Linked DNA regions of Homo sapiens: region 2 is linked to region 1. The links come from fine-mapping of genetic effects on gene expression. A gene starts in region 1. The other region holds a variant in brackets. All regions are shown on one strand. Distances are from middle to middle. Region 1 holds the start of BAIAP2L1 (BAR/IMD domain containing adaptor protein 2 like 1). Region 2 overlaps BAIAP2L1 (BAR/IMD domain containing adaptor protein 2 like 1).

Region 1 (4,000 bases):
TGGCAGAAAGAACGTTTTATTTACACACTTGGTCAGTACCCCACACCTCATGCAGCAACGTCTTCCGGGTCATTTAAATAGTAGCAATCTCAATACAAATGTAGGAATTTCTCAAATTTCGAATTTCTCAAATTTCTAAAGATCGCCCTCTATGAAGGCAACACACGAATAGAAGAGTTTTTGGTCACAGTGACTGAGCATCAAAAACGCTGTGTCAACTGTGTCTACTCTCCCTACCTGTAAGGCATAATTTATATGTGACAGTATACACTTTGTGTGTTAAGATAAACGGAACGGATCTCTTGGATTTCAATACATAACAAAAATGTTCATGTTCTTCTCTTACTTTCATTCAACAAAAGTTAATAGACTCCTCTGATTTTAGGAATTCAGACCTTGAAAACCCAGAAACTAAAATTTTAGGTTTAAAAAAGTCTATCAAAATGACTAAACTTCCTGATTCAAGCACCAGGGACAGAAAAAAGATAAAACACACCAACCAACCAACCGACCAACCATTTATTTATAACCTTAAACATGCCTATACATGAACTTAGAGAACGTTAAAGTTTCAAGGGTTCGAAGCGCCTAGGCTGAATTAAAACAAAAGTTGTTTTGTGTTCTATTAATAGCAGATGATTAACAGATATCTTATTTCACCTGGAATTCATTTGTAAGTATGTAAACTAAACAGGCCACTAATCCTAAGTCTCTGTCTGTGTCTGGAAAAATTCTCTCCTAATACATGCAAGTTAAGAGACCGGCTATCAACGCATTCCTTAAGGTTAGGTCAATTTCATTAAAACCTCGGTTGTTCTTTGACTTCAAGAACCTCACCAAATAACCCATATATAAAAGCCAAGTTCAACTGAAAGGTGGGAGAGGAAGGGTCTAAGGAGGAGGGCGTTTCCCGGGAGAACGCCCAGAGCTCGGCTCACCTGGCGATCCTAATTACAGGGGAGTTTCACCCCCACATTCTTGGGCGCTTTCTTTTCTTAGAGGAAACTCGAGCTTGTGTCTTTGGTCCCGGAGGGCTTAAGCCCGGCAGCCAGGACAGCACGGGTCACTGATTCCAAGAAGTTGGGAGGAGGACGTGGGCCCCACCGACGCACAACAGACCCCTCCCCAACTTAAGTGCACTAGTTGTAAAATGTGTAGCTGGTCAGGGGATGGGGGGTGGTCTCCAGAGCTCTGAGGGTCAGGGAAGAGGAGAAGGGACGGGGAGGAGAAGGGACAGGGGAGGCGGAGAAGGGCCAGGAGAGGAGGGGGAGACACACGGGGAAGGAGGAAGAACCAAGAGGAGGGGGAGGGGGAGGGGGAGGGAGGGGGATAGACTGGGGAGAAGAAGGGACAGGGGAGGAGGGGGAGACACACGGGGGAGAAGGAAGAACCAGGAGGAGGGGAGGGACAGTGTCGAGGGGCAGGGGAGGAGGGAGAGTGAACGGGGAGCGGAGGGGCAGAGGGAGAGGTACAGCGGGGCGGGAAAGAGAGACAGGGAAGAAGCACAGGGAGGAGGGGAGGGAAGGAGGAGGAAAAGTAGGGGGGAGGGGATGGGGAGGGACTGGGAGGAAGGAGAGGGCCAGGGGAGGAAGAAGAGGGGCTGTGGAGGGCCAGGGGAGGAGTGGGAGAGACCGGGAGAGGTGGAAGGACGCGGGGGAGGGGAGCTGGAGGGAGGGAAAGTACCTTCCCGCGTAAAGTCCCCTTCTGAACCCCGAGGTGGAAAGCCCTGACCTCCCTGAGCCCCGGGCCCTGGGCTTACCCGGTAGGTGCTCTCCGTGAGCCGGTTCACCTCCTCGGGCCCCCGGGACATGGCTGCGGCCGCCGGGCGAGCAAGCGCGGGAGGACGCGGCTGGGCCTCGTGGCCGCCGGACTCCGGGCAGCGGGAGGGCCGGGGCGCGACTAAGGGGCTCTGGAGGGTCGGCCGCCGCCGCAGCCGTCGGCCCGAGAGTGCCCGCGCGCGTCTCCGCTGCGAAAATGTCAAAACTTGCGGCAGCGCCGCCCTGGCCTTCTTCGAGGAGCAGAGGAGAAGCGGCCGGACGCCGCCAGAGGAAGCTGGGCGGGCCGGGCGGCCCCACCTGAGGCGGGCGGGGCAGACGGGGGCGGGGCCGCAGGGCCGGAGGGGCGTGGCGTACCCACCTGAGGCGGCCTGGTGAGCGGGGCCCGGCCGGGGTGGGCGGGGAGGAGGCGGGGCCAGGCAGCTGGAATGGGCGTGGCCAGAGGGAAGCGGGCCCCCCGAGTGGGCGGGGTCACCCCACCTGTGGCGGACAGGGCAGCGAGGCCACGGTGCGCCCCCTCGCGGCTCTCCCAGAGCTCCGGCGACGTAGGGCCCGAGACCCTGGAGTGGGGACCGGTGTGGAGTGGGCTGCTCGCTTTGCTGTTTTGCTAGGGCAAGGGCAGCCTGGGGGTGTTTAGACTGTGGTCCTGGAGCCCTTGTTTGCCTCGCGTGGTGCTGGCCCCGGGGACCCCGAGGCCCACTTCCTCCATGAGGGCTTCCTTCAAGCCCTGCGTTTTGGGGACCAAGGGAAGGGGCCACATTCCCCAGTTGTATTGATTTCCCTGATTGATCTCTTCTTGCCCCGCCGCTCACTGACCCCAAAAGTTAGAGGGACCCGTGGGGGCATCGGCCCTCCTAGGTGGAGAAAACGGGCTGCCACTTGCAGTTTTGAAAGCTCCTGATATATCAAAAAATTAATAAATGCCAGGGTCTAGTTACCGAAATGTTAGTACTTTTTTTTTTTTGAGATGGAGTCTCACTCTGTCGCCTAGGCTGGAGTGCAGTGGTGCGATCTCAGCTTGCTGCAACCTCCGCTTCCCAGGTTCAAGCGATTCTCCTGCCTGGCATGAGCCATCCTGCCTGGCCCCCAGATAGAAGCTTTTTGTTTGTTTTTGAGACAGAGTTTCACTCTTGTCCCCTCAGGCTGGAGTGCAGTGGTGCTCTCTCAGCTTGCTGCAATCTCTGCCCCCCAGGTTTAAGCAATTCTCCTGCCTCAGCCTCTCGAGTAGCTGAGATTACAGGTGCACGTGCCACCAAGCCAGGCTAATTTTTTTGTATTTTTAGTAGAGACGGGGTTTCACCATGTTGGCCAGGTTGGTCCCGAGCTCCTAACCTCAGGTGATCCGCCCTGCTCAGCCTCCCAAAGTGCTGGGATTACAGGCTTGAACCACCGCGCCCGGCCCAGTAGTACATTTTTAAACTTTACATTAACAACGACCTTTAACTCAATGCAGTGTAACCATGCTACTCACGAGATTGTTGTAGGGTTTAGAAAACCACCTGAGCTGAAGTGTTAGGGAAGCCTCTCTTCTTGTCATCACTCAAACTCTGTGGAGGTGTGTGGCTCCTGGGCTCCCTATTTTGTCTCCATCCCGGCCTCAGCCCTGCCCAAGGGTGAGGCAGCTGCCTTCTTTGGGCCTCTCTTCCAGGATTATGTACCTTGGGCTGGGTGACAGCCTTCTCCCCAGTAAGAACCACCATTTAGCTACCTGAGACCCGCACCCAACAAGGGCAGAGGTCTTATTCTGATTTTTTAAAACCTCTGGGCTTGGTGGCTCATGCCTGTAATCCTAGCACTTTGGGAGGCCAAGGCAGGCGGATCACTTGAGGTCAGGAGTTCGAGACCAGCCTAGCCAACATGGTGAAACCGCCCTGCCCCCGTCTCTACTAAAAATACAAAAATTAGCCAGGCATGGTAGCACGTGCACCTGTAATCTCAGCTACTCGGGAGGCTGAGGCAGGAGAATTGCTTAAACCTGGGAGGCAGAGATTGCAGTGAGCTGAGATAGCACCACTGCACTCCAGCCTGAGGGACAAGAGCGAAACTCTGTCTCAAAAACAAACAAACAAAAAGCTTCTATCTGGGGGCCAGGCAGGATGGCTCATGCCTGTAATCCGAGCACTTCGGGAGACCAAGGCAGGAGGACTGGTTGAGTCTAGGAGTTCGAGGCCAGCCTAGGCAATATAGGGAGCCCACCCCCATCTCTGCAAAAAATATAATTAAAA
Region 2 (4,000 bases), 60 kb before region 1:
CTCTATTGGGTGTGCTGTAGCTATCTTGTGGTTTGGATTTGTGTTTCCCTAATGGCTAATGATGTTGCGCATCTTTTCATGTGCTTGTTGGCACTCTTACTTTTAACAGTTTTGTTAAGTCACTCGGAAGAGGAAAGAGTACATAGGGAAGTGCATTTACTCCCAAGTTGCTAAAGACCAAAAAACTTCTAGAACCCCACCTGCACTAACGAAGACTCTAACCCCCCACCAGAACTGTCTACCCTCCACCGTGGCACCATGGTGTGCCCGGGAATGCGGCTGGCGTGGCCAGGCCTCACTCGCTTCATGATTCTAGCCGCATCCATCTTTGAGTATCCCTCTCTTCAGCCTGTCACGGGAGCTACGCCCTTTGCTGCTACCTGTGCGTGTGACCGCAGCAGCTCTTTCTTGGCATGCTCTCAACCCCACTCCCCAATTTGGGTGTCATAACCTAGTGTTTTCGTTCCTGACCCTTCACTGCAGGCCCAGCATGGTGCTGTGAAAAAGTTAGAAATCCACACCTATTTGTAAGAGGATGTAAGTAGCGCTTGTGAACAAGGATGGTGATGATGGCAGAGGCACAGCCCCAGGTCCTTTGCGCCACCCCCCCTCGCCATGACAGGCCAATTATCCGGCCCAGTTGTTGCAGCTCCTTGGCCAGCGGTCCTTTGGCTGTGGCTGACAGCGTGAGGACAGGGACACTTACGCTGTCTCCATCTTGAGTTACTAGGACACACAATATACTTCAAGGAGAAAAAGACCAATTTGAGTAACTGTGAAAACTGGGTTTAAACAATTTTCTGTTCAAACACTTAAAAATCCAAAGATTTAAGAGAACGGGCAAACATAATAAAGTTACAATGAAAAACAGGAAATGACGTTTCAGGTTGACACTTAGGATGTGCCCAGTGAGCAATCTGGAAGCATGAAGTGTGAAATGGCTAATCTGATTCAATGATTCAGCTTCTACATAAGTAATATTTATTTCTTTATTTTTTTGAGACAGAGTCTTGCCTTGTCGCCCAGGCTGGAATGCAGTGGCCCAATCTCGGCTCACTGCAAGCTCTGCCTCCCGGGTTCACGCCATTCTCTTGCCTCAGCCTCCTGAGTAGCTGGGACTACAGGCGCCCGCCACCACTCCCGGCTAATTTTTTGTATATTTAGTAGAGACGGGGTTTCACTGTGTTAGCCAGGATGGTCTCGATCTCCTGGCCTCGTGATCCACCCGCCTCGGCCTCCCAAAGTGCTGTGATTACAGGCATGAGCCACCACGCCCGGCTATGTAAGTAATATTTACTAATTATAGTACATTGAGTATATATATACTCACTTCAAAGCTGAGAGAAGGAATGTTCTTCTTGTAACAACTTTTGTAAACAAGTACAATTTATAACACAGAACATCTTCCTAAACTTTAGGAATGTACACATACTTACACCAATGCGCCTACACGACACATGGACTTCCACAGTACATGCTCTTACAGGTTTTTTTTTTTTTTTGCAGGGGACAGAGTTTCACTCTGTCACTCAGGCTGGAGAGCAATGGTGTGACCTCAGCTCACCTCCGCCTCCTGGGTTCAAGCGATTCTCCTGCCTCAGCCTCCCGAGTAGCTGGGATTACAGGTGCCTGCCACCAGGCCCAGCTAATTG[G/GT]TTTTTTTTTTTTTTTTGTCTCTTACAGGTTTTATAAATTATAACCCTACCTTTCTAATTATTCTAGCTGAGACCTTTCCTGTTCCAAAAGGGAGAAGAAAGAACATCCACCCAAAAATTGAGATGAGAAAAGCCACCTTCAAGGTCTAAAGGCATTTATCATGTGCTTGCTTCCAGGAAAAAAATTATTTTCCAAACCCCAAACTGAAAATACTCAAGAAAAAAAGCTGGAATAATGATCGCATTATAAATGCTTCTAAGTAAAACCAGCAAAATTGTGATTACAGCTGAGAAAAATCCAACAAAATACAGACTCATACTCACATGGTTAGTCAGCATGGACCATATGATGGTTTGCAATTTAACACAATCCTTTATTTTGCTGAACTCTAATTGGCAGGAAAATCTGACAGCCATAAAGTAAAGCCGTTAGAAAAGCACAGTCCAGGTGCAGTGGCTCATGTCTGTAATCTTAGCACTCTGGGAGGCTGAGGTGGGAGGACTGCTTCAGCCCAGGAGTTCGAGACCAGCCTGGGCAACACAGAAAGACCCCCATCTCTAAAAAAAATTTTTTATTTTTTAAAAAAGCACATCTTTTGGACATATAGAAAATTAAGTTGGCAGACTAGGTCATATACCTGGTAGGTAGCCTGGGGTCCAATGAACCAGCCACTGACCAGATACGCGACCTCAGCAAGTTACTGCCTTTGTACCTCAGTCTCCTCATCTATAAAACGGAAATAACAAGCATGGGCCTCACAGTGCTGTCATGATGATTATAGGAGTTAATATTACATTTATAATGTGCTTAGAACTGTGCCTGGCATATAGCAGGTACAGTGTTCAGTAAATAAAATCTCCTCTTGTTTCTTTGCTATTTTTGTGGAAGAATTTTAATCTCTTTAAAGTGAGTCTAACCTGTAACTAAAAGATAAGTGATTTTGGTCAATTATAACTGCTGTGGCTCAGCTCAGCTCTTTCCCTACTGTGGTATGAATTCTTTTATCCAGATCTTAGGAATATATTTGTAATATTGTTGTGAATTAGTAACATTTCAAAAATGTTTCAGAAATTTTTTTCTGATTTTTTTTTTTTTTTTTTTTTTTTTATAAAGACAGAGTCTTGCTCTGTCATCCAGGCTGGAGTGCAGTGGTGTAATCATGGCTCACTGCAACCTCCGCCTCCCAGGTTCAAATGATTCTCATGCCTCAGCCTCCCAAGTAGCTGGGATTACAGGTGTACGCCACCATGCCCAGCTAACTTTTGTATTTTTAGTAGAGATGGGGTTTTGCCATGTTGGCCTAGCTGGTCTCAAACTCCTGGCCTCAGGTCCACCCACCTCGGCCTCCCAAAGTGCTAGGATTACAGGTGTGAGCCACTGCACCCAGGCTGAGCCACCGTTCCTGGCTTCTGCTCTAATTTTTAGACCAAAGACTGTCAGATTGGATTCTGAGTATCAGCAAGACAAATCTATAATGTAGTTTTTAAAAATTGCATGATCCATAAGCATTCTATCAATGATTAAAGGAAATCTATGATTTTCTAGGTTCCCTGATAGTGAGGAGATAAAATATTCTGTTTTGTGCCCAATTTCAGAAACTGGCCCAAACAATAAATGATTCAAAATGCAATGGCTGACTAAACTACAACAAAATAACATAGCCTAAATTTACATAATGGTGAGCTCTAAAAAGCTCAAAGCAAATTTATAAACTCCCCAAAGAAAGTCTTATTTCCTGAGAAGTCAATGAGAACATCCTTTATTTTTCTCTGCTTTAAGGATGAAAAAACTGACTCAAAGGTTCTTCTAAAGATTTTGGCAAAACATTTTCCCCTTACCATTTCTGTTTTCCCTTTCACCTTTTCAATATTTTCTGAGTTATAAAAATAAACCTTGCTTGATTTAGGAACAAAACTGGAAGTTTATGAAAATGTCAGATTCCTTTTTTAAATGGGCACTGCTGGGTAGCTGTGCTGCCTTGAACTGAACTGTGTACAGGTAATGAAGGATTAACCTTTATCACGTGTGATAAAGGATTTAACTTTATCACACGTGATAAAGTCACATGAGTGACTTTAGGTACACCCACTGACAATCTGTTGAGTGGCATGAATTTGACCCCATGACCTATTATTTAACAATTAAACAGTGGGAGCGGCCAGGCGCAGTAGCTCACGCCTGTAATCCTAGCACTTTGGGAGGCTGAGGTGGGTGGAACACTTGAGGTCAGGAGTTCGAGACCAGCCTGGCCAACATGGTGAAACCCTGTCTCTACTGGAAAAAAAAAATACACACACACACACACACACACACACACACACACACACAGACACACACACACACTAGC

What was found. PIP is the estimated chance that this variant, and not a neighbour inherited with it, causes the effect.
Region 2: its variant is the best candidate, but not a certain one, in a credible set for the expression of BAIAP2L1 in whole blood (INTERVAL, PIP 0.89).

Annotation. Positions count from the first base shown.
Region 1 is chr7:98,399,043-98,403,042 of GRCh38, forward strand. It overlaps BAIAP2L1 (BAR/IMD domain containing adaptor protein 2 like 1), which reads right to left and starts at 2,048. Exons shown (of 14, transcript NM_018842.5): 1 at 1,760-2,048. The coding sequence starts at 1,810. RefSeq lists a silencer at 1,722-2,381.
Region 2 is chr7:98,339,307-98,343,306 of GRCh38, forward strand. All of the region lies in intron 3 of BAIAP2L1 (BAR/IMD domain containing adaptor protein 2 like 1), which reads right to left. Among named protein-coding and RNA genes, the nearest start is that of BRI3, 60 kb to the left of the region's middle. The variant G/GT (reference allele first, on the strand shown) is at 1,653.